Regions from separate parts of the Homo sapiens genome. Here region 2 is linked to region 1. Evidence: fine-mapped expression QTL. A gene starts in region 1. The other region holds a variant in brackets. All regions are shown on one strand. Distances are between the middles of the regions. Region 1 holds the start of MACC1 (MET transcriptional regulator MACC1). Region 2 holds the start of MACC1-OT1 (MACC1 3' UTR overlapping transcript 1).

Region 1 (13,044 bases):
TAATGTATACTTTATTGTTTCCACAAAATTTTCAAACATTCAAAACAATCTTATAGACTGTTGTTTATGGATATCTTCACATACACAGCAGTGGAAAGAATAAAAGCATTTAAAAAAGAAAAGAATAAAAACATACACTGCAGTGATATCGACAAAGATAGGATAGTGGTAACCTTTGAGGGTGAAAAGAGAATAGGATTAAGCAGGGTACTTTTTTATCTTTAATATTTTATTTCTTAAACTGGGAGGTGAGTACATAAGTCTTTGCAATATCTATCTTTAAATGTCTACTACATATTACATGTATTGGGGAAATATCTAAATTAGGTGTCTTCCCAGTGGAAATAGAAAACATACAAAACTCTTCTACCATTCCTGGAAATTAAACCTGATGTCTGTTCTGGCTGGAGATGAAGATGTTTCTGTTTATTCCAAGGAAGGCCCCTATAAAGAAGCCTCTTATCTCTGGGCAAGGTGGTGGCCACAGTAACCAAGAGAAAACAAAACCTGGGAGGAAAGAGTCAGCATGCCCTTCCTCTGCCTTCCCATCCCTGAGTACCTGAAGAATCTCTCTTCAGCTCTCTTCTCCTGGAAACTTGAGTGGGGCAGGAGGAAAAGCGGAGCTAGGTGTCATTTTAATGAGGAACATACTTGTCTCCTCCATTTATCTGGCCCTCCCTGATGGCACTCCAGAATTCCAATCCCACATGATTAACAACATAGTTTCCCTTTTCTGCTTGAAGGTCCATTCTCCTCTCAATTTCAAATCACCTGAGATACAAAGCTGCATTTCCCCACAAGAACCAGTTCCCTCTCCTTTCCTTCAGTGCTACTGTCCTTCTCTCAGACCACCAAGCTTAAAAACTCCAGAGGCTCAAACAGCAAAGATGGCAGCCCGCTCCTCCCTCTGGGAGTTCTGGCCCAGGGAGTTTTCAAATTTCTGTAGGCGGAAGAATACTAGCGGGAGTGGCTGGAGACCCCATTTGGTAGGTTCCACCTAGTAAAAAGAAATGAGATCAGGGACTGGCTTAAAGAAGCTGTATGGTCATGTTTTCGTAGAGCAGCTGTTCTGTGCTGGGATACCACTTCCACCTTGGTCGACTTGACATTTCCAAAGCCCACAGGCTGGAATAATTAAGATGTGGAAAATGCAAAGATGGTGGCCCACCCTTCCCTTTGGAAGCTCTCTTTTCAAAAGAAGACATACATGTGGCTACCAATCATATGAAAAAAAGCTCAACATCACTGATCATTAAAGAAATACAAATCAAAACCACAATGAGATATCATCTAACACCAGTCCGAATGGCTGTTACTAAAAAGTCAAAAAATAACAGATGCTGGTGAGGTCGTAGAGAAAAAGGAACGCTTATATGCCATTGGTGAGAGTGTAAATTAGTTCAGCCATTGTGGAAGACAGTCTGGCAATTCCTCAAAGACCTAAAGACACAAATACCATTTTATCCAGCAATCCCATTACTGGGTATATAACCAAAGGAATATGAATCATCCTATTATGAAGACATATGCACACATATGATCATTGCAGCACTATTCACAATGGCAAAGACATGGAATCTATCTAAATGCCCATAATGATGGACTGGATAAAGAAAATGTGGTACATATACACCATGGAATACTACATAGCCATAAAAAAGAACAAGATCATGTATTTTGCAGGGACATGGATGGGGCTGGAGGCTATCATAAACAGAAAACCAAATACTGCATGTTCTTATTTATGAGTGAGAGTTAAATGATGAGAACACATGGACACATAAAGGGGAACAACACACACCGAGGCCAATTGAAGGGTGGAGGGTGGGAGGAGGCAGAGGGTCAAGATAAATAACTTGGGTACTAGGCTTAATACCTGGGTGATGAAATAATCTGTACAACGAAGCCCCATGACATAAGTTTACCTATGTAACAAACCTACATATGTACCCCTGTACATAAAATAAAAGTTAAAAATAAAATAAATAAAAACTCAAGAGCAGCTTGGCTGTCACTATAATTATTATTATTCAGTTTTCTTTTTTATTGAATTACTCCTTCATCCTCTGCTTCTTTTCCATTTTAATTCCTACCACTCTTCATTTATTCATGTTCAGCTTATTGAAACCTATTTCCAAAGAGCTCTCCTGGTGTCATATTCCCTATGCTCCAATCCTCCTGCACACTATGCCCAGGAGGAACCCGCTAAAGTATGGATTTCCACAGTTGGCTCCTGGTCAGAACCATTTTGAGCCCCCTGTTATCCAGCCGCTGAAGAATAAATCCCTTTAAAGCTTCCACAACCAACCTTATTCCAGCATTATCATCCAAAATCCCCTAGAATACCCTCCATGGAATACCCAGTATCCCTCCTTTCTTTCCAGCTACACATAAAAACAGCCCATTCAATTTCACTTCCTAATTCTTGTGCTTGATATTCCCCCTACTTCAGTGTTTCCCAAACTTCACTCATTCTGGTACCTCATCATGATTTTTCCACTACCAATTGCCACCTGAACTACTTTTTACTTAATATTTCCTGTAAATTCACTCTTATTTTAAGTAAGACAAATATTTGAAAGGTTAATGTCTATTAGTACCATAAATGAAAAAAGCTGATATCTATTGTAATAAATAGGCAATAACTATATATAAATGTTATTTTAAAGCAGTAATTAAATTAAACTAAGTACTTTTTGCCTACTAACATTTATTGCTTATTCTGTGAGTGTTATAAAGGAAGCTTAAACAAGTGTTTGGAGAAGTTTAAGTCATATCAAAAACAACAAAACTTATTTCTGAAGAATTGAAACTAAGTCAAAAAATATAACTTTCTCAATCTGTAATCTTAATGTTATTGTTATTGATTGATCAGTCCATATGTTTCCGAAAATCATTTAATGTGCGAAAGTTTGGAAAACACTGCTGTACGTGAGATACTTTCATGACCTTTTCCTGCCCATCTCAACTCTGCACATTTTTCCAGGCCTGCTTAAAGTTCCACCACCTCCCACAATGTCCTCTTGAAATTCAGGGCACTGTGACTGCCCCTTCCTCTGGCAGCCTGGGTACGCGTCTCTTCTGTGTTTTAGGAAGTCACTCCACTCTGCTTCTGAATGACTCATATACATCTCAAGTTTATTTATTTATTTATTTATTTATTTATTTATTTATTTGGTCTCCAGTAATTATAGTTGAAAGAAAGGTTTTTGAAGGTGTCTTTTTAATCCCCTGATACTGAGCATCACACTTTCTGTGGAGTGACTCTATGAACAGCATGAATGACTAATGAATTAGCACTTACTCTCTTTAACTATTTATGAGGTCATATCTCTGCTAGTAGATAAGGATCCCCTCAAGGGCTGTGCATGAGTTTCTTCTAGCCTCTAAACCCAGCCCAGGGGGAGTATATTGCAGGATTGCTAGAAATCTTTGTCAATTGAATGAATGACACTTCCTAGAGACACTACACCATAGACGGCACTTGACAACAACAAAAAAAGCCACCCTTTTAGAAGTATACAGTGTTCAGTGCCTCTGCAGCTTTCCTCCACCTTTGGAGAATTACAAGTTTCATTCTAATTCTATCCTGGACTTGCTGACATAGGGTTTACATTTATTAATATATGGCATATCACATGTAAAACTCTGCACAGTCATCTGAAATGCTGGTTGTTATCACCTTCACTTATCACCAAATGCCATAAGGGATGTTTAGTCTTAATAGACACCTAGGCATATGTGTGGTCTTTCAAGAAAGAATTCTCTAAAAATTCAACAGACATGTCTTCAAGTTCAAAATTAGTATAATTCCAAAATGTCTTTTGTCCTCCAAATCAGCCAATACATTTTAAGATAAGATGGTGTTTAACAAACTTTGCCTTAATAGTTTTTATTATCTCTAAAACACAAACAGATAAAAATATTCTATTTGTAAATTAGCTACAAGGAAGTTGAGAAAACTGGAATAAATAATATTTTTGCTTTAAGTTTTAAAAATGAGTCATAACTAAAGCTTTTAAGCAAATTGTAACTAATAATTATGACTTCATAATTTCTAGATTCTGTACACTACCCATGAAATCATATTAAAAATCGCTATTATGAATAAAAGATAATCATGTAATTAAGTTCAGGGGGGCATAAAAGAATCACCACTGAGGTTAAGACAACTTTAAGAATATACCTGAAATTCATCATTATCACCCAGTAATTGCTATGTAAAAACCAGACATTAACATAGATAAGTCAATATCAATCCTAAATTAGACCCACTGAATATAGACTTAAGACATTTTTAGGAAATTAGGAAGACCTTTAATAAATGGAAGGCATTGGAATTTTCACTACATGCTTTTTGATCTTAAAAATAAATTTTTTAAAATCTATCTTTATTAATTGTGGTAAAAAACTTAACATACAATTTACCATCCTAACCATTTGTAAGTGTTTACACTTACAAATTTTAAGTTCAATAGTATTAAATATATTTACATTATTGTACAGTCTCCAAGTGTTTTCATCTTGTAAACTGAAACTCTATATCCATTAAACAACTCTCATTTCTCCTTCCCCCAAGCCCCTGGCAACTACCATTCTAAGTATCATTTATGTGAGTTTGACTACTCCAGATACCTCAGGTAAGTTGAATCATCCAGTATTTGTCTTTTTGTTTCTTTGGTGTGTTTTCCAAGCTTAATTGAAACTTAATTAGGATGAAGCCAAGTTACCCTCCATCATGTATCATCTGTCTATTCAGTACAATGCACTGTGCTAATTTAATGACCCCCTTAACTTAATTACATGATTATCTTTTATTCATAATTTAATGCTATTAACCTAATGAGGTAGGTTATGCACACACACTTTACAGATGAGGAAACTGAGACTTTGCGAGGTGAAACATCTTGTCAATGGTCATAAATCTAATAAGCAGTGGGGCTGCTGATTGCAACTTTATCTATCTTCAAAGCACAGTCTTTTTAACATACCTGTATGCTTTTTGAGATATTTAAAGTTTTTAGGGGATTTCAGCCATCTACATATTTTAAGCAACTCATAGAGTGTTTTGTTTTTGCCTTTGATGGTTAATGTGACCTGGGTTCCTCCTTTTTTTTAAAATAAACTACTTTATTCTAAACCATGTCTCAAGGTATTATTCTATTCTATGTCATGAGGTTTATTCTAACACATGTCCCATAAGCCCACAGAATACCAGTTACCTTCCCTTTATTTAAGCAGGGCTTGATTTGTTAAGCAGCTGGTTTGTTACATTTTTCTGGAAATTATACAACTTCCTAGTGTGTAGCACATATCAATAGTGAAAGGAATATTATTTTTAAAAAATCAGCACTTACATTTGTGGAAGTGAGCCCAAGCTTCTTCAGTTCAGACACATGGTTTTAGTGAATAGAAGTCACTCTACCAAACCCGGGTACTCTTCAAACATGCCTTGCTCCGTATGCAGGCAGGCAACTGCACCCCTGCTTCCTGAGCCACCTGGGACTTGAAGTTCTACCACTGTGGCTCCAAAGCTGCCCAACTAGAAACCCCAAAAGGCAAGAGAACTACGATACCCACAATTCAGGCTCCTCACCCGAAACCAGAAGAGGGCGTATGGCTAGAGTTTCACCCTAAGAAGAAAGGGGAAGCAGGTGGAAAAGCAATTAAAAAAAAATCAGGTGAGTATATCTAAGAACCATCTGTAAATATAATCTTATTTCCATGAAAGGAAATAAAAGTGGTTTAATGTTTGCCAGGGAGTAAGAAGGCACCCTCAGTGTTAGCAATAAGTAAAAAATATTTATGCAAGCAAATCCTCATGCAGCTGGAACTTGCCCCACCAGATTCTCTTTCGGTGATTCAGAGCTGAAGGTGCCTCACTGCCCTGTGGAACAGGTGAATAAAGCCTTCCCAGGTGAGTGACAGTGTCTAACTAGTTCCCCCTTTCCCTCTACATCAGCACTGTGATTGTCACTCAAAGACATAGACATATAGACATAATGGAGACCTTTTGGCATTTCATCTTCTAAAATGCTCTGGATTTTTAAGATAACACTTTAAAATGTGCCTTTTAAAATATAAGCAAGAATAAAGTTTTCTTGATATTTTCTTCCATTTTACTTTCCATTTCTGTGTTTTGTGTTTTCCTTCTGTGTATTTTGTTCAAAATTCAAGAAAGAGAAAATTAGGGGAAAGGGGAAAAAAGGTAAAACTTAGTGAAATGAAATGTGCAATAATTGTTTCACATTTTTTTCCAACATCAGCAACAGAGAATGTTTAAAACAAATGTGTTTCTCTATTTGTTCATACAGCATCTCTCTCTAGCCTATTATCTCCTGTTAGACACAGCCCAGAAAATGAATAGAGACAAGTCCTGGCTGGGTCTGGGTTCAGAAACATAATAGAAGGATTCATCTAATGTAAGTAGATGGCAGAATGGTGACAAAGAAAAAGTTTCCTTTCCCTTTTCTGCACTTTCTCTCCTACTGTTCTAACCACCCCTTCCTCCCTGATGCATCCCTGGCTTCATGCTGCCAGATCACCTAATCCACCCAGATTCCCTTTGAAGTTTCCCCTTGACTCATCCCACAATCCAAACTGAGCTGTTCTGTTTCTTTTTGTCACAGGTTCCTCAACTCTCTACTAGAACCTAGCTTTCCTTTATGTCATTATATTATTTCCAAAACAAATGGTTCTTAATTTCCCCAAACCCTACAGAGGGCATTCTGCATGGCATTTCTCCTCCCTGAAACCATTTTTGCTCATCTTGAAATGTTCAGAGATTTCATTTTTTCCAAAGCTCAATGAAAAACACTCTTCAAGATGTCCTTCTCAGTTTGTCTTAATCTGAGTTATTCTCTTCCTCCTAATCAATTTCATAATATTGCATCTGCTCCTCTCATAACACATTGTATATCTCATTTCATTGGTTTACATGGGTGTGTGTGTACCTATGCAGTCTTACATTCCTATTTGAAGGCAAGGCCTCATTGTATCCCTACTTCATTAACTCATTAATGTACAAGTAGATGTTTGTGATAAACAATCAACACATAAAATAACTGAGATGTTAACTCTAAGGTGTGTGTGTGTTAATGCCTAATGCCATCTTTATGTCTCCCGGAAAACATTTACATTTAAAAAGCTACCTAAATGCCATGCATGAGTACTGTTATCAGAATCCCCCTGCAGTCTGGTCTGGTGTGGCTCCCACAGCCTTTATTTGCAGAAAGGCAAAGCATTAAATCTAGCAATTGAACCCTTGACAGTACCCGAAATGAAAGCCCTAGTGGGTCAGCACTCACTGTTTACCAGCTCCAATCCCTGCTGTGCACTTGCCTTTCTAACAGCTCCCCAAGGACTGGGCTCCCTAGAGTCCTCAGTCCCATGGTCCTGGAAACCTGGCCCTACCTCTATCTATGATTTTTGATTATCAGCTCCAGCATTTATGGATCCCTTCTCCTATTATCTAATCTACGGGCTCTAAAGATTAAACTGTGCACTTTGGACTATTTAAATAGTTCTTAACCACTGATCTCCTCCCTCAGGGAAGGGAATTCTTTCCACAGTTGCTAGTTCCTCACACCTCTGCCTCTATGGGATTCTCCTGGTCCCCACATGCTCTGCTGTGTCTTCTAGCTGTCGGCCACTGTGGAGGAAGTGAACCTTCTAGATCCTGCTGACTCATACAATGAGTTTTGTGTGGACCATCAGACAAAAGGGCTGGCTGGTGAAGGTGGCTGTTGTCTGGAAATTCCTCCCAGCTCTCCTCTAATTATGTCATAAGGACTGGAGGCCCCTTAGCCTGCTTGTGTGAGTATCACCAGCTATGTAAAGTTGGGGCCTTAGCTCATCCTCAGCACATGGCTCAGGATCACTTCCTTAAGAAAGTCTCTTCTGACCTCCTTACCCCTACCATGTTTCTTGTACTGACTTACGCAATGGTCACAACCAACATAGAAGCTGAAATCCCAATGACTCACTGTCCCAGCTGCGCTTGTAGATAAGGGAGAGGCAAAGCACTTAGAATGGCAATCAGACATGGCTATCTGGGACCAGGAATTAGGAACTGCTGACACAAAGAAGCAGGGACAGAAGAGAACTCACTCTTGTGGTGAGCAGAGGCAGCTGTGCAAACAACCTGCTGTTCCGGATGTGACTGTGGTGGCCGTGGGGTGCAGAGTCCAGGGCTCATGGCGTTGGTCATGCAAATTGTGGTTCCTGGGCCTTAGCAGAAACAAGGAACCTATTCAGTGGCATTGCTTTGGGGGCTGCTCTGGCTTCGTAAGCTGTGTGCCTGATTCTTAAGCCCCTCCCAGCAATTCTGGGACTGAAGTTTGGTGTGTTGCTCTTCGGTTTAGATCTGCCACAGTCATTTGCTGTTGCTTGAAGCTAAAAACTCTGAGTGATACGAACCTCTCACACAACTCTTACCACGTTGTCACTACCTACCCCAGTATATTTAGATTCCATCAGATCAAGTACTGGATTTTATTTATCTCTAAATATCCTAAATCTCCACAGTGCCTGGAGTACATGTATATATATTTGACCTACATTAAACTGGTCAATAAAATGAGGAAGTCTTGCTTAAAGTTCCTTCTAACTTAAAATTTGCCTGACCACATGGAAGCTGTCAGGTTGCTCATTAATGCAGAGGTAATTTTTTTCTCTTAACTAGGGTTAGAATTTAGACTCTACCCCTTCTCTGTATCTCAGAGGGAGCAGAACTAGTGGTTTCCTACACTGGAGAGGGAACTCAAGCACACAAGCTATTGCTTATTGTTATTTAATAATCAAAAGGATTTTTGTTTCCTTTTTTCTTTTTTTTTTTTGTATCCTTCAGTGACCTATGTCGTATGTTAAAGTCACTCATGTTTGGCCCCTGTAGTACAAATATACCAGAAAGAGTGATAGGAAACAGCATATTCCCCCCTTGTTCAGATTTTTCTTAGTATGACATTATCTTGGAAAGAGAAAGGCCACATTTGCAAGTTTGGAAGAAAGTTCCCCCTGGAGTTTTTTCTCTGTCCTATTTCAGTATGTATTGACTCTCAGAACCCGGGCTGCTATGACATCCGTTTTCTGGGTCACTTTGTCCCTGAGTCATTATCATCCTGTAACTTTCTGAAAACATTTGACTATGCCATTTACCAGTTAATTTCAGTGAATAGCTGAAATCATAGTAAAATGTTAGGGCCAGAGTAAATTTAGGTCAGATTGATTTTATTGCCCCAGATTAAGAAAGTGAGCCAAGTTGTTGTTAACAATTTCATAGTTTCCTTCATCACATCTTTTCGGAGCCTTACTCAACCATAAGATGAATCATCCATAAAATGACCCCCACAAAGCTGTGGTTTACATGTTCATCACTCTTTTCTGTCATTTGTTGCTTTCAGGATAACACGCAAGGAAATATGGGCCAACTCTTCACATGAACACAAGATATTTCCATGCTAGCCTTTTGCAAGTAACAACAGAGAGAGCTCTGTGCAGTTTTCACTGGAATGCCTGTGGATTGCTTGTGTCATAACTGTAATCTAAAGAGTTGTCCATTTGTTGATTCCTTTGTATTTGTATTGGTAGAATTGCCACTATCAAACCAAGATCTTTAGCTGCCTTTGTATCAACTTCTTTGGAGCTTATGTGATTTTCCAGAAAATTTCCAAGGCATAGTTTTGTCCCTAAGTCCCATGAATATGTAATATTTTGTGTCTCTCTATTAAAATAGCACTTTTTGTGCATTCCATTAACAAATATATGTGTATGTGTCTGTGTGTGGACAAACATATCAATTACTTCACCCACTTTAGTGGGAAAAATAATTTACTCTGAGTTTCTGGAATACCAGATAGTGAGTAAGTTCTTTGAGAATGGAATATCGATGTTTAATTATATTCTATAAACCCAAGACAAGGGGGTGGCAGATATTCCTAATTCATTTTCCAATATGTTTAGATAATAGGCTTCATTATATATATATGTAAATATCTTGCACATTTTTAAATTTTGCACAAGAAAATGCAAAACTTTTAAAAAATATTAACATCTATTCACCTACTGTTACGTTCTGTGGACATCATTAGTGGGATTTTACGAGTAGATAAATTTTTCTGACAATTGGAAACTCTGTCAGAAAGAAGCAGTACATTTTATATCCTGGGAATATTGTCTCTTATTTTTTATGTACCTAATAAGTATTATGCCACAGTGAGCTCTATTCTCTAACTTGAGATTAAAAGGTTGAACACAGAGACACAGATAGGTTCACTGACAAGGGGCCAAATCCCAGTGTTCTCTGACATAGAAGAGGAATGCTTTAAGTTACCCATCCAATACCCCATTAGAATTTCCACCTCGGATGTTGGAGTCTACATGAGGCTGGCTTCTTATAGTTTCACACATTCTTCTGGTGCTAACATGTTCCTTCTAACTGTATTCGCTTTCAATTGCTGGTGCAACAAATTACCACACATTTGGTAGTTTAAACCACACGAACTTAACGTCTTACAAGTTTGGCAGTCAGGAGGCTGCTACAAGTCTCACTGGGCTAAATTCTAGGTGTCAGCAGGACCACATTTCTTTCTTTCTGGAGGTTTTAGGGGGACAATCCATCCCCTTGCCTTTTCCAACTTCTAGAGGCCACCCACATTTCTGGGGGCAGATCTCTTTTTCCCTCTTCAAAGCCAGCAGCTTCAGGCTGAGTGCTCTTTTGCCGCATCTCTGATCCTTCCGTCATCACATCTCTCTCACTGACTACAGCCAGGAAAGCTTCTCTGCTTTGAAGGACTCATTATTACATTGAGGCCACCCGGATAATCTGGATCAGCCCCTTCCCACCCACCATCTCAAGGTACAGACCCTTAATCACAATAGCAAAATTCCTTTTGCCATGTCAGGTAACATATTTACATATACCAGGGATTGGGGCAAGGACATTTTGGAGGGGCCATTGTTCATCTACCATACAGAATTAATTTATTTATTCATTAATGTTCCAATAATTGATTGTTTATAAGGAGCCAAGAACTACTTATTAGTCAAAATTTGCCTAACACTTTAAGCAATTCTCAGGAATTTCCTCAGGAAATTCTCCATGTAACATTCTAGGTTGGAGTTGAGTCCTGTATAGGCTACCCATTGGGGAAAAGAGACAGTCTCTTGATTTACTACAGGACCTGTGTTAGAAGAAGATGTATGATTGAAGAAGCATAAAGAAAGGCATGGTGTCCCCAAAACATCACCTGCCTCTGGGCTGTCACCTATTATTTTATTGTGATAAACAGATGATTCAGCTTCAAACATGGTTTGCTCTCAAGAACAATTAAATTAAATTAGTTAAACAAGATGGCATTAAAACAGAAATACAACTTAGAGGGATTGCCATGGCAAGGATTCATCAATTGACATTTTGGCAAGGGTAAGTTTATGAACAGGGCTGAGTGGGGAAGGATAAGGGGAGAACTAAACGGAGGGATATTTATTTGCAGAAATAAATGCAGGAATCTGCTTGCATCAGAAAGAATTGCCTCTCACACAAGTGGTTCCTTTCTCCTGAAAGAACTGAGCCATGGATCCAATTTTCCTTGCCCGGTACTATATGACTCCATTGCCCTGACTCACCACAGATGACTGACCACAGATCACTGGGTGGAAAATTGATGTTCAAACCAAAACTGACCATCTGCAACTAGATCAGGATTTTTAAAATTGTATTGAAAGTAACGGCAAAAACCGCAATCGCTTTTGCACCAACCTAATATATTTGGCTAGTTTGTGGGTCATTAATCAATTTATCAACATTTTTAAGTGAAATAGAATAAATTGAAATAGAATGGAACTGAATAGATGAAATGAATAGAGTACAATAGAATAAATCAGAATACATCGAACTAAAAAGGGTCAGTGTTGTTTCATGAACTGTTCATTCTAATGTGTATGTGAGTGTATGTGTGTGTGTGGTGTGTGTGTCTTTGAGTGTTGAGTTCAATATAAAGTGGTTTCCTTTCTGTAGGCAAATTTGAAAACTATGCAGTTAGATAGTGGGCTTATAAAATAATCTAGCATGAAAGCTATGTCTTATTAGAATATTTTTACATGGGATAGTAACCAACTAACTAACCAATCAAATTTTCTTTCTTTGGCATGCAAGCAGAAAACTTCAAGTAGAGGTACAAACTCTGGAGTATTGCAAAACCAGGATAAGCACCACAACAAGACAGAAAGCAGAAACTACAAACTAGTCAAAAGTTTGCTGTTGGAGCAGAGAGCAGCAGGGTGGAGGGCTGGTGATTGGCTGTGGCAGTAGAAACAGAAAGAGATGGAAGCAGAATAAGAGAACAGCTAGTCACAGGAATGGTAGGATCCCAGAATGAGGCAATATTAGACACCCATTTATAAAGGCAAGGCAAGGTGAGCTGTTAGTTATTCTTACATTCAACAAATACTTATTGACTGCTTACTGTGTGCCAGGGACTGTTCTAAGAGCTGGCTATATTGCATTGAAGAAAATAAACACAAATCTATGGTTTCATGAAGTCTGCATTGTAGAGGATTGTACTAAGACTTATGTTCTAACCTATACTTAAGTTCTTCCTGATTGTACACATGTGTTAGTGACTTATTGTGCTTCCTAAATGTGTTCTCCATCCTTTCAACACATCTTCATTATTTTTATTTCTTGAAACATGAAATAACCTAACCAATGTAGCCCAAATAAAAGTTAATATTTGAGAGTTTTGCTTAGGGTCAGTTCTAAATGTAGAAAAGTCTTATTCTAGTGAATGTAAAGCAAGAGCTTATCTCTTCTTGTGGATGGCACTAGGGCCAGAAAATAAGAATGAATTAAATTAAATATAGCAAAAGTATCATCATTGTTTCTTCTTTAATCATTGCAGAATTATTTATTCATTACTGTTCCAATAATTGATTCTTTATAAGGAGCCAAGAATTATTTATTAGTCAAAATTTGCCTAACACTTTAAGCAATTCTCGAGGCATGTCCCTCCTGTCTTTTTAAGAAATATTTAACATCAAGTATCT
Region 2 (12,630 bases), 73 kb before region 1:
TATATCTCGTAGCATCACAGCCTCTCCATTGCAACTGTTAGTATGCATGCCATTTTCTATTTAACGGTGTCATTTTTTAAAATTATCTATTACTTAGCACTACTAAAGTCAGAGTTCATGCTGGTTTTTTCCCATTAGCCTCAAGCATCTATATGCCTGCCAAAAAATAGACACATATACTCTACCTATTGACTGAATGACAATAAATGAATGTCTGTCCAAATACACACATAAACACTGGCAGGCAACCAGAGGATTGAACAGAGGAGTAAGCAAAATACATCTCTTTGTGAACTTTGTCAGCCATTAGCATTTATACTGACCCAGGGTCCTATACAATTTTTGTCCTATATAATCAATTAGGCTGTGCTTTATAAAACACTGTGGTACACACACACACACACACACACACACACACACACACATGTGTTTGCATGAGCATGCCAACATAAAGATATCAGTGTTTTCGGTGGTTAAGACCTCTCTACTCAACAGGGTAATCAAGTTAATCAAGTTTCTGGTGGTGGTGGTTTTTAATAACTCGTATTATTAAAAATCTCCAAGAGCTAAAGAACTATTTTACATTACAATCCTGCAGAAAAAGTCCCAAATTAGGCAGGATTAGAGAGGTCCCAAGATGCTGAAGGGAGCTGATGAAAACACTAGGTCCATGCATGCAGACAACAGATTTCTGATAAGTCATATTTTCCTTCTGTCAGTCTTTCAAGAGACGATGAAAAAGAGTAGCAAGTCTCACTTAAAATGAAACGGCAACTGTTTCCCTGTAAGTCTTAACACGCATTTTGTTTTTACTATTCTGTTATGCAGTATGATTTTTTAAAAAGAAATAGAAACAGGTTTTTCAAGCAGAAAACCTACTTTGTACTGGCTATGTAGCCTCAGACGTTCTCTCCACTTCTGAGTTTCTCCCCATGAAAAATGGGGGTGATGCTGGTGAACCCCACTGATGAACTGAAGAGGTCAGGTGTGGAAAGCGGGCAGCCGTGACTGGCCACAGGGTGTGTGCTTGCTTCCCCTCTTTCTAGCTGCCTCCTGGGAACACTGCCTTGATCATGTTGATAGTCTCTAGTTTACCCAGATATCTGTGTGATGTAATTATTCAAACAGCTTTGACTTAGTAAATTTAAAATAACACTGAAAGAGAGAGAGGGCACTTTTCTTTTTTCTTTCCTTTCTAAGAACAAAGCAGCCTAATACTTGTATTTGAAACATACACAAAAATACATATTTGAGGATAAAACCCATCTTGGTTATCAGTTAGGCTGTGCTTTCATCAGGAAAAAAAAACTGGTTTTGAGCATGAAGAAAATTAATATAATGCTTTTCTGAGATTCTTTCTTTCCTACACACACACACACACACACACAGACACACACACACAGACACACACACACAGACACACAGAGACACACACAGACACACACAGACACACACACACACACACCATTACCTCATTTTCCCTCCCATCAAAAACACACGCTTTGTTTCTATACTTCCTCAGAAGTGGAGAATGCAGTTACTCTCAAAACCTCCAAAGAATTTACTAGTATTAAAACTCCAGTTAATTCTCTCCAGTGTTTAGTCACAGGGTTTTTCATTCTGTCCAAAGCTGACTGAAGGTCTTGTAACACATCTCTGTAGTTATTTCCATAGTGAGCACTCCAGGTATACAGAAAATCATAGGCAGGTTTCCACATCATCTATAAAGAAAAAAAATAGATTGGAGTAGTGTGGAAGTAGAAAGGAGAGGAAAATCGTTTTTAAAAAAAAGATGTAAAAAGCCTCTTAAGATTTAAGATAAAACGGAATACCAATTACACATGGACTTATTTGATGTCATAGAAAATATGGTTTAATAACTATCAGCTTCCTGTTATATCCCTGTGTTTTTAAAACTAGAGATTTTAAAAATAATAACTACAAATAGGGCCTTTTTTCCCTTGATCCATCATCTATACATTGCTGTTGCTTTCATGTGAATATAAAATTCCTTGCACAATTTTTTGATGGTAACAAATGTTATTGAGATAGGCTTTTTACTATTTGAGAGACTTTTAGAGTTAATTATTATTATTATACCTATCTGTGGTGAGTTTTATGACACCAAATAATGTATCAGGAGAGAAATAGTATATTTAACATTTTAAATTATTTTACTCGAGCAAGTCTATAAACAAGCAAAAATCTAGCTTCTTGATCAAGTCAAGATGAAAGCAAAAATATAATTCTCTAATTTAAAATATTTATTTCATGATATATTTTATCATCGAAAGAAAAACCAATACTCAGTGCTGCTTCTTTTTGCTTTTCCTAAGCACCTACCCATACCAATGATGTCATTGTTTCCATAGAAATAAATGTACGTCAAAGAGAAACTTCACATACAAGCATGCATGTAATGGTAACCAAGGCAACCAGGCTAGAGGGAGAATAGAGACAAAGGCAGACCAAATAAGACAAATTGTAGAATACACACACACACGCACACACACACACACGTCACACACACAGCACCTTAAAATGAATTTTCTCTAGGGAAACAACAAAATGAACCCTGCACTTGTAAGTGGAATATTTGAAATATAAACTTTATTATTTGCTTATTTTGGGGGGTTCACTGAACTAATTTGGTTGTGATTCTATCACTTGCAAAATGTAGGAACATAGACTCCGAGCTAAATATCATGCAGAACTGCCCTTTTAAAGTAGAACCTCTATCACAGTTCAGTAATATCACATGAACTAAAGCCTTGGCATATAATTTTCACCATCCTCCAATATCCTCATATAGTCTAATTTTAAAGTTAAAAGAATTAAAGACCTAAATAGGGAGTTCCATTATGTATTTGATTCAATCCACATAAAAGGCTCTAAGGACAATTTAATGTTATTTGTCCAAACTGGCATTCCTGGGAAGCCATGAACAGCCATTTCCTCATCTCTCTCGACAAAGCTTAATTTTGCAAGGTAGAGAATAAAAGACAATTATCAAAGTTATACCATATCAGCATATGGTGCAGCAACAAAAATCATCTCAGATTTTTGTATATAAGTTTTACCCTCACCAACCGGATTAATAATTTTATCTTCTATGTCTGATGGAATGTGAATGAGGCATCTGCTCATCTATATTTCTGAAGATTTACATTGAAATCAAACTTCTCAAAGTACAATTGCCACTAGTTTCTCAACAATGGAATATCAGTTGAGACATAGTAATGGAACCTTTTTTGTCAGACTCAATCTTGGTTGTCGCTGCTCAGTTGCAAAGAATCACTAAACAAATAGATTATTCTGTAGTGGGTATATTCTGTCTGTAAAATCTCTGAGACGTGGACACTACCTTCTATTCACTTAAAAGTCCCTGATGCTCAACGAACTGGTTCAAATTGTCACGTATTTTTTAAAATAATGGTGTTTATAGCTAAAGGCTTCTAAGACTGTTCTAAGTCTGCTAGTGATTGAGTCTGATAAATGATGTATTTGAAGATATTTTATGATAAACAGCAACTTAAAACATTTCTGTAAAAAGGGGATGGCATAGTAGATTAGTGTAAAGCATCGCAGAAAACAGACATCTCAAGAATTATAAAAGGGTAATTTTGGGGTTGTCCACTACACTACAGATTCAAATACTTTTACAGTCAAAAGCAGCCAATATGGCCCCACCTACTTTCATGGGAAGAAAAGCTCTGTATCTATGGCCTATCTTGCGGCAGGACTGTGAATTGCTATGTGTAGAGGAGCCCTTAGGCACACTCAGTCAAGAAGCAGCTTCTCCATGCTGTTGAGGGCAGGAAATACCACAGGTGATGCAAAAAATAGAAACTACAGATTCAGGAAAGGTCCGACGACACATCTACTCATGCACTTACGCAGAGCACCACATAACGTCCTCACATTTGGCAATTTGTTGTTGTTGTTGTTGCTTTGCTTTGTTTTGTTTTGGAGACGGAGTCTGGCTCTGTCGCCCAGGCTGGAGTGCAGTGGTGTGATTTCAGCTCACTGCAACCTCCCACTCCCTGGTTCAAGCAATTCTCCTGCCTCAGCCTCCCAAGTAGCTGGAATTACAGGCACGCGCCACCACGCCCAGCTAATTTTTTTGTATTTTTAGTAGAGACAGGGTTTCACCACCTTGGCCAGGATGGTCTTGATCTCCTGACCTCATGATCCGCCCGCCTCGGACTCGCAAAGTGCTGGGATTACAGGCATGAGCCACCACGCCCAGCCCTACATTTGGCAATTTGTACTAACAACAGAGTAGTGTCGATAGCTCTTGCAAATCAGAGAAATTTGGGTACAATACTGAGTCCTAGGCCCTAATTAAGATTTTTGAAGGTGTAAAGACTTCCCAAGAGTCCCCTGAATTTGTCTGAAATGCAAGGGGGAATATTGCCCTAAACCGATTTGAGACTCCCTGGAGTGTAAGCTGTAATCTGGCTAGAAATGGGTAAAAGAGCATTGGGCTGAAAACAATAGGGCGTTGGTAAACTTTACGATTTACACTAAAATATGAGCATACTCTGTATTCCATTTTTCTTCCTCATTGCAGCAAATTAAACCTGAATATTCCTTTGGTGCAAAAATTCATCTTCTGTGTACAAAATCATTGGTAGCTCTCAACAAAGATGATAGAGAAACACTTTTATAGCATAAATACAATGAAAATATTCAACATTATCATTGTTCATTAACTATTTTGCTTATCAAATCAAGGTTTATTATCTTCCACTACAATAAATTTTGTTACAGTAAGAAAATGATGAATATTGCATGACTCTTGCTTTTAGAAGCTTATAGCGTAGGAAGGAGATAGACACCTGCACAAACACTGGCACAGGGGATGAAATAGGATG[T/C]GATAATTACAGAAAAACTCAAAAATTACTTGCATATTTTAAATCAGTGTGAGAAAAAATGATTGTTGTATTCACTGATGCTATAATGGAAAGAAAGATAGGTTTGGGTGGCAGAGTCCTGTGTCTACATCTGAGTTCTGTTGCCTATTTGATAGGTTAATTTGATAAACTAATCAAGTTATTTCAGCTTGGAATTTTTTTAATCTATAAAATATGGATAATCATTCCCAAATTTTGTGTTCAAAATACCTCATGATGTATCTGGCATATAGTTTGCATTTATACTTCTTAATAGGATAGAGAAGAAAGTACTTATTTTTTTGGCAGGGGCAAGCTAAAGAGCCTATTTTCAGCCCTACTGAATATCAAGCAAAAGGGAGGGTATCTGATAAAAAATTACAGTTGGAATGAGGAGATGACCTTGAGAGGACAGACAAGGGTTTAGCATCACTTGTGCTACAGGGATGGCAAAACACATGAGAGCAGAAGAAAACACCAAGGAAGAGAAAAAAGGGATGCAAAATTTAATTCTCAACTAAGTCAATTATTAGTGGATACAAGAGAGAAATAGACGCAATAAAAGGATGGGGAGAAGCTGGAGTCAAAGAAAAAGAAAGTGAATCACATGCTTCATCTTGCAAAAGCCAAGAAGTATAATAACATCCCAAAAAGGACATGCATTGGCTTGCTGGAGCCAGCTCACACAAGCTCCCTGGATATCCTCCCAACTCCATGTTCCACAACTCCAGTGACACCACAATGGTAGGTTAAAATGATGTACGATCGGAATATTTACACTAAGAACATTAACAAAAGCTATAAGTTTAGATTTTTTCCCTCTGCAGGGTTGGTTGGTAAACATATGCCAGTGTAACACTGAGGACTTCCCTTTTCTGTTACCTCCACTGCTACCTGTAACATCAACAATGTGGGAATATAAAGAAAAACTTGGCAAATCCAGGATTTTGGAAATTAGCAGGACTTTGGTAACTTGGAGAAGGCAGTTTCAAGAGAATAGTCGGGGGCATACGACAGGTACAAACAGGTATCAAAGAAATGGAAGACACCAAACAAATGGGTCACATCTGAAATTTGAGTGTCAAAGGAAGAGAGACAGAACCAGAACAAGCAGCAGTAGAAAATAGAGGTATTTTTAAAAGAAAAACAAATTTAAAAAGTAATATCCTACCAGAACAAGCAGCAGTAGAAAATAGAGGTATTTTAAAAAGAAAAAAAATTTTTAAAGTAATATTCTATGATGGCAAGGGGATTTGGATTTGAATCTTAGCTTTGCCATATGGAGAACTTAAGGTTAATGAGGCTTAAAGAGGTAGCATATATAAAGCACCCAAGAAGAAAGGTTAACTTCCTTTGGCAGAAACATAAATACAAAAGGATGTTAAAATCATTATGGAGTTAGGGCACAAAATTAGAGGGGCAAGTATCATGAGAAATCGAGAAGGAATGAGAACAAAAGCATATGTCAAGACTTATGTACTTAATACACTGATAAAAAATATTAAATTGGGGGAACTATGTTTTCCCTTAATAAGTAAATCTCTAGGCTGGGGGTGGTGGCTCACGCAAGTAATCCCAGCACTTCTTTGGGAGGCTGAGGTGGGTGGATCATGAGGTCAGGAGTTCGAGACCAGCCTGGCCATTATGGTGAAGCCCTGTATCTATTAAAAATACAAAAATTAGTGAGGCGTGGTGGCACGCGCCTGTAGTCCCAGCTGCTTGGGAGGCTGAGGCAGGAGAATCGCTTGAACCCAGGTGGCAGAGGTTGCAGTGAGGCAAGATCATGCCACTGCACTCCAGCCTGGATCTCAAAAAGAAAAAAAAAAAAAAAAAGTAAATCTCTATTTGAGCTTTGCCTTAAAAAAACCTGATTAATCGTCCAGGTCTCTTCAATACAGTAAATAGGCTAATCAGTTGTTTAATTGTCCTTTGTGGAATAGATATATGAACATTTGGACACAAGTTCTAAAGGTACTTTTATTTTTTCTGCATTTTTTATCTCATTTCATTCTGGTTTTCTTAAACAGTAAATACATTTTATCCAAGGCAGAGACATAAGAGGTAATTTGTGTACATTAATTAACAATAAACTCTATGAAATTTGCCCTAAAATATCTACCCAGTAAGGTCACAAAAAATTCTAAATTTTTTAATAAATTACAAAGAAAATGAAGTCATCTTTTCTGGAAATGTTTGAAGGAATAAAATGCGTAGAATAAATAATTTTCTTTCCGGACTGACTAACATTTAATCCTCCGAAGGCTAGAAAGGAGTTGCAGACAGCCAAGATCTCTTCCAGATTTATGTTGTCTTGTATCTATTCTGTGTTTTAAAAATAGTTGTTCCTCTCTTGCTCAATGTTATGATTAGAAAAGATATGCAGAAACTCTACACTTGTGTTTTGAAAAATCTAAAGGAAAGCCCTCTCAGGAGGGCTTGTTTTTTAGTTGTTAAATTATTCTTAACCACAAAAATTATCTCAGCCTTCTCATTTCTATCACAAATATTTAATACATAGGCTGCATTCTTATGCCTCTATTCTTAGATTTTTAATGGTAACTTCATGATGTTGCAGTTTCATTCTTGAATAGGAAGCGTGAGGCTGATAAAAGCACAAAGTTGTTAATTTTCATCTATGTGCTTTTCTTTTTATAAAAAAGGGCAGCAGCGTGAGTAAGTATTTAACATACAAAGTTGAGCAGTTTTCCAAAGTTCAAGCTTTTGTGTGGAAGAAGTGTGTCTTAGGTTATCTTTTCAGTGTTATAGGACAAAATAAAAAGTAATGGAGCAATAAAAAGTAATAAGTGGGATGCCAAAAGAAATGAAATAGGAATAAAGGCAAAACATACATAGTTTTCCAAATTTAGAGTGCTCATTCCCAGAAGCCAATAAGACTCATTAGAAAATGCACTAGAAAATGAAATGCCACATGAGTAGAAGAAATTCAGATTTCAGCATAGCACTGTATGTCTTTTTTTAGCTTATAAAATATGAATAGCATAAAGAATGCAATTGGTTTTAACTACTTTTGGATAATTACATTTTGTCACATTAAAGGATTAGTAATCCACTTACTTCTCCTATAAACTTACAGGAACAACACTTCATTTTCAGTACCATTAGCTGAAGAAGTATTAAGGCAAGGTTGCCTTCTTAATGATTATTTCATGTGTTCTATCCTCAGTACATCATTTACAATATTCAGGTAAGCTTTAACACTTAACATTTAACATTACCTATAATTAGTAAGTACATAAATATTGTTGAAGGTAAGATTGCTGTTGTCTTCAGAAGAGAAGGGAGGCTAACATATCTGGGGGCCCCTATGTCCTCACGAGGGAGATGCTGCTTGGTTAAAACTTGACACAAGATTCCATTGAAAAAGTCTATTTGAGGACAACCAGCTAAATTTGGGTGAGAATAACCACTTGGAACTTCAGGGGTTAAGCATGAGCCAGAGGAAGACAGAGGACCTATTCCTTGCTAGTGCATCTGCTTAAATAGTCTAACATTATAGGAAAACCTGCTGGTTAAGCCATCTTACCAATTCCTAGTTGGGAGGATTCCTCATTGCCTCCTCATCATCACTGCCACCCATGCCCCTGCCAAAAACATATATTCATGGAGACAACTGACACCAATGTTTAAAGAAATTGGGCTCCTTCAATTTAATTTTTCAATGTAAACATTAAAACAAATGAAAAAATACAGTGTCAAGAGCTCTGGATTTAGCGGCACACATCTTGGTTTAAATCTAGACTCTTGGTTTAGTAGCTCCAGGATCTTAGGTAAGCTATCACCTTTCTTTAGGCCCTTGCTTTCCCCTTCTGGCAAATGAGAAAAAAGGTGTACCCAATGCTATAAAAGAATTGCTAAGTATACAAAGGAATGGATGTAAATGTTTTTGGCACACACCAAGTGCTCAATTAATGCTAATTATAGTTGAGTTTAAAGTTAAGAAACAAAATCACAGTCAACTATCCAGGAAAAGAACCCAGGTAACCTTGCTATAAATCTAGGGCCATTTTACTAAAGTATTGCCACAACTTTATTTCATTATTAAGCAGTTCTAACAAATGCTGATTTTGGTCTTACACATAGCTGGATTTTGGTTTTCTGAAATTCCTTATTGTTTATGTTCCCTAGTACTAAAGCTTGAAAAAGAAAACCTAAAGTCAAAATTAAATAGTGTCTTTAAATCCATTTTGAATTTTCTTAATAATGTTTAACTTAATATGCATGTTATTTCTATTTGATTTTCAGTGTATAATATAGAATTAAGTCAAAGATCATAGGAATACAATGTGTTACCCCAGAAATTTCACTGTGCTATCTTTGTTTTCTTTCCTACCTCATTCCTCCCAAAATGGAGTATCTTTTTGAAATTAAAGTTTGTAACAAGTATAGAATTGTACAAAGTAGACATGGTAATCTAAATTGTACAAAGTAGACAATGGTAATCTAAATAACATCACTGTGCCAAATCTCTAGTTCAAACAATGGAGATTTGAGATATCATTCTATACATTTTACAACTGGTATGTGAATTTCCATATAATACTTTTCCCTTCTCTAAGAAATTATAAATATATTTCTCATTTCAAAAGAACAGCAAACAAAAGAATTAAGTACCAAGGCTAGAACTGAACCAGGCCCTGATACAGACCTTGATAATTCAACATCCCTGTAAGCAGAATCCAGAAGTTGCCATGTAAGCCAGAAAACCATACAGCCCAAGGACATTTCTTTTAACTTTTGCGAGAGATAATTTCCAAGGAAAATTAAATGTTGTTAAGCCCATAAGAAATAAGCTGATCAGCCAAGACTTTATCTCATTTTTTTCCATGCATTGCTATTCTGCCAGTTTCTCAGATGAGAAACCTTGAAATAACTGCTAACTTTTTCCTTACATTCTTCCTATAGGCACTCTCAGTCACATTACTAAAAAAACAGTGTATTTTATTCTATTTTCCAAAAATTACTCAAAGTTATATAGTTATCAAATTCACCTTTTCCTCTTCCTCTTCATTAAAATAATAAATAATATGTATTTAGTGATTACAATATGCAAAACATTGTCCCAAATATTACACATTTATTATCTCATTTGATCTTCTAAACATCCAGTGAGTAAGATAGTATTATTCTCCTTACTTCACAGACACACAAAATAGATTCCCAGAAAAGTAAAGTAATTTGCCCAAGGCTTGAGGGCTGATAGATGGTAGAGGTGGAACAGAAGTCCAGCCAAGAATCTTAACCTCTATGCTCTGGTAGTCACTGAAGACTCCCCTCCATTGATACCAACATATGTACCTGACCACATCACCCAGTAATTAGTAAGGTGAACTCTCCCCTCCAGGCCACATCTTCTCAGTGGTCCCTAGAGCTCACTGATATTTAGAAGCACTGAAGTCTACTTCTATTCCTCTCCAATTACTCAAAGGCCACCCATCCTTCAAAGCTAGCATGTCTCCTAATTACTCCTCACCACTTTGATATTTTTTAAGTAAGTTAAATTTGAAAGGGCTTATCATTAGTATAATACAGTGGTTAGGACTTTATATAAGACAACGTGAATTCAGATCTAAGTACTTGCCCTTAATAGCCATGTAACTGGATAAATTACACAAATACATTCACCTTCAGTTTGTATATATGTAAAGAGCAGATGGCTATAATGTTTTCCTTACAAAGTATATTGAAATAATAGAGATACTGTAAAGAAAATGCTCATAATGACTAGCTGACAATGAACATTTGGTAAGTTACAACTATTAACATTGTCATCTAGTCCTATACTTTTAAGAAATATTATAACAATTCAAATATTAACAGTTTATCCCAATTCCCAGGCCAAAGTAAAACCTGGTTTTTAAGGAAAAAATAATCATATTGTGTGTTTTTTACGGCTCCTAAACCAATGTCCAGAACTGATAGACCCAGAATAAGCGTTAAGTATATGGATGAATTAAATACTGAAGGCTAGGACACAGATATAAGATACTAAATAAGTGGAAAGAATTCCATGTGGAATTCATTCACTTATAGAAAATGACTAAAACTTCTTGAAAATCAACAACTTTCTTATCTTTAATCTAGACTTGGAACAAAGTACTTTGAACTCTCCAGCGGCCAGTCAGAAAATGAGGAACAGGTTGTGAATAGAAGATACAAAGGAGTATTAGATCTGCATTGATTAAATGGTGACTACAAATAGACTTAAAATACATCTTCCCAATTATGAATCTCTACAGGTGAGTAATTTCCGAGACGAAAAAAAATTACCATTAGGAACATTGACTTCGCTGGCTTCCATTGGGAGAGTGGCCCATTCTGGCAGGTCAGATAAGAAACTATTATCAACAGGACTATTGGTGCCTGTGGCTGAGGTAGAGCCCAGTGGGCAAAGGTAATTGAAGAAAGGAAGTGAGGCCAGAGTGGTGGCTCACACCTGTAATGCCAGCAATTTGGGAGGCCGAGGTGAGTGGATCACCTGAGGTCAGGAGTTCGAGACCAGCCTGGCCAACATGGTGAAACACCCATCTCTACTAAAAATACAAAAATCAGGCAGGTATGGTGGCATGCGCCTGTAATCCCAGCTACTTGGGAGGCTGAGGCAGGAGAATCTCTTGAACCTGGGAGGTGGAGGTTACAGAGAGCTGAGATTGTGCCATTGCACTCCAGCCTGGGTGACAGAGCCAGACACTGTCTCAAAGGAGAAAAAAAAAAAAAAAAGAAAGGAAGTGAAACTTTAGTGTCCTTGGTGAATATGTGTCCTTATTAAACAAGATAAAAATGGCATAATCTATATTGTTAAGCAAGGGGGCCAATGAGGGAGCCATAGAAAAAGTATTGTCATTTGTGGTAACCATCCCTAGAAGGCTAAGTGAAGAGCACCCAATTTAGGCCAGTGAATTTCTTATCTCTGAATCCCCAGCATGTCCCCTTGTAAAATTCAACATTTAAAAAGTGAGCTATTTTTCTAATATGCTATTGATTCCTTTTTTAAAAAATTAAAACTCTAAATATATTCAGAAAATGCCAATAAATTTTCACTAACTTTCACGGAAGAACCTTGGCAATAGTGACATCTTTGTATAGTGTAAGTGCATTTTTTCTGAAAGAAATACTCTGAAAAACATACTTTGCTTATTATCAGATTCCAAGCTTTACAGCTTTGCTTTTATGTAGTAATTACCATGTCATTAGAAAAGTCGAGTAACATTTCTTAAAATTTAACTTGAGGAGATGGTTAATTTCAAAAGTGACATTCTCAAAAGTTTCCAAAGAGAGGCTTTTTCTTCACCTTAGAAAAAATTAAGAAATGGTTAAGGTGTTCAGAAAATCTGACAAATTTATTATTAATATACTTCATTTTTTAACCAGCTTGAGGCTTGGTAAAGATTTAATTTTGAGGCAATTTTTGATAGTATCATGGCTACTTGACATGGCCTGAAAAGAGGACAAATAAAAAATGAAACAAGTTGCTTAACCCTGGCCGCACCTTCTGACTCTGCAACATAGTCACCATATTAAACAGTGATGGACAGAGTGTAATGGTTAAAGTCATGGACTCTGAAGTCAAATGTCTGTGCTCTAAACATGGTTCCAGGACTTTCCAGCTGTGTATGTTTAAGCAAGTTACTTATCCTCTCCATATCTTAGATATTAGTGTCTGCCCCATGAGTTTTTATTGAAAGGATTACATTAATTAATTTTTGTAATATTTCCA

The links. PIP is the estimated chance that this variant, and not a neighbour inherited with it, causes the effect.
Region 2: its variant is fine-mapped to the expression of MACC1 in lung (TOPMed, PIP above 0.99).

Annotation. Positions count from the first base shown.
Region 1 is chr7:20,211,942-20,224,985 of GRCh38, forward strand. It overlaps MACC1 (MET transcriptional regulator MACC1), which reads right to left and starts at 5,443. Exons shown (of 7, transcript NM_182762.4): 1 at 5,358-5,443. GIRGL (glutamine insufficiency regulator of glutaminase lncRNA) reads left to right here and starts at 5,636. Exons shown (of 4, transcript NR_134569.1): 1 at 5,636-5,681; 2 at 6,315-6,422; 3 at 7,642-7,815; 4 at 9,402-9,759. RefSeq lists enhancers at 5,268-6,467, 7,887-8,036, 7,953-8,482, 8,047-8,176.
Region 2 is chr7:20,139,438-20,152,067 of GRCh38, forward strand. MACC1 (MET transcriptional regulator MACC1) reads right to left here. Exons shown (of 7, transcript NM_182762.4): 7 at 1-1,721. The coding sequence ends at 1,509. MACC1-OT1 (MACC1 3' UTR overlapping transcript 1) reads right to left here and starts at 989. Exons shown (of 6, transcript NR_110114.1): 1 at 880-989. MACC1-AS1 (MACC1 antisense RNA 1) reads left to right here and starts at 2,479. Exons shown (of 4, transcript NR_046756.1): 1 at 2,479-2,583; 2 at 7,990-8,100; 3 at 10,998-11,152. The variant T/C (reference allele first, on the strand shown) is at 4,878.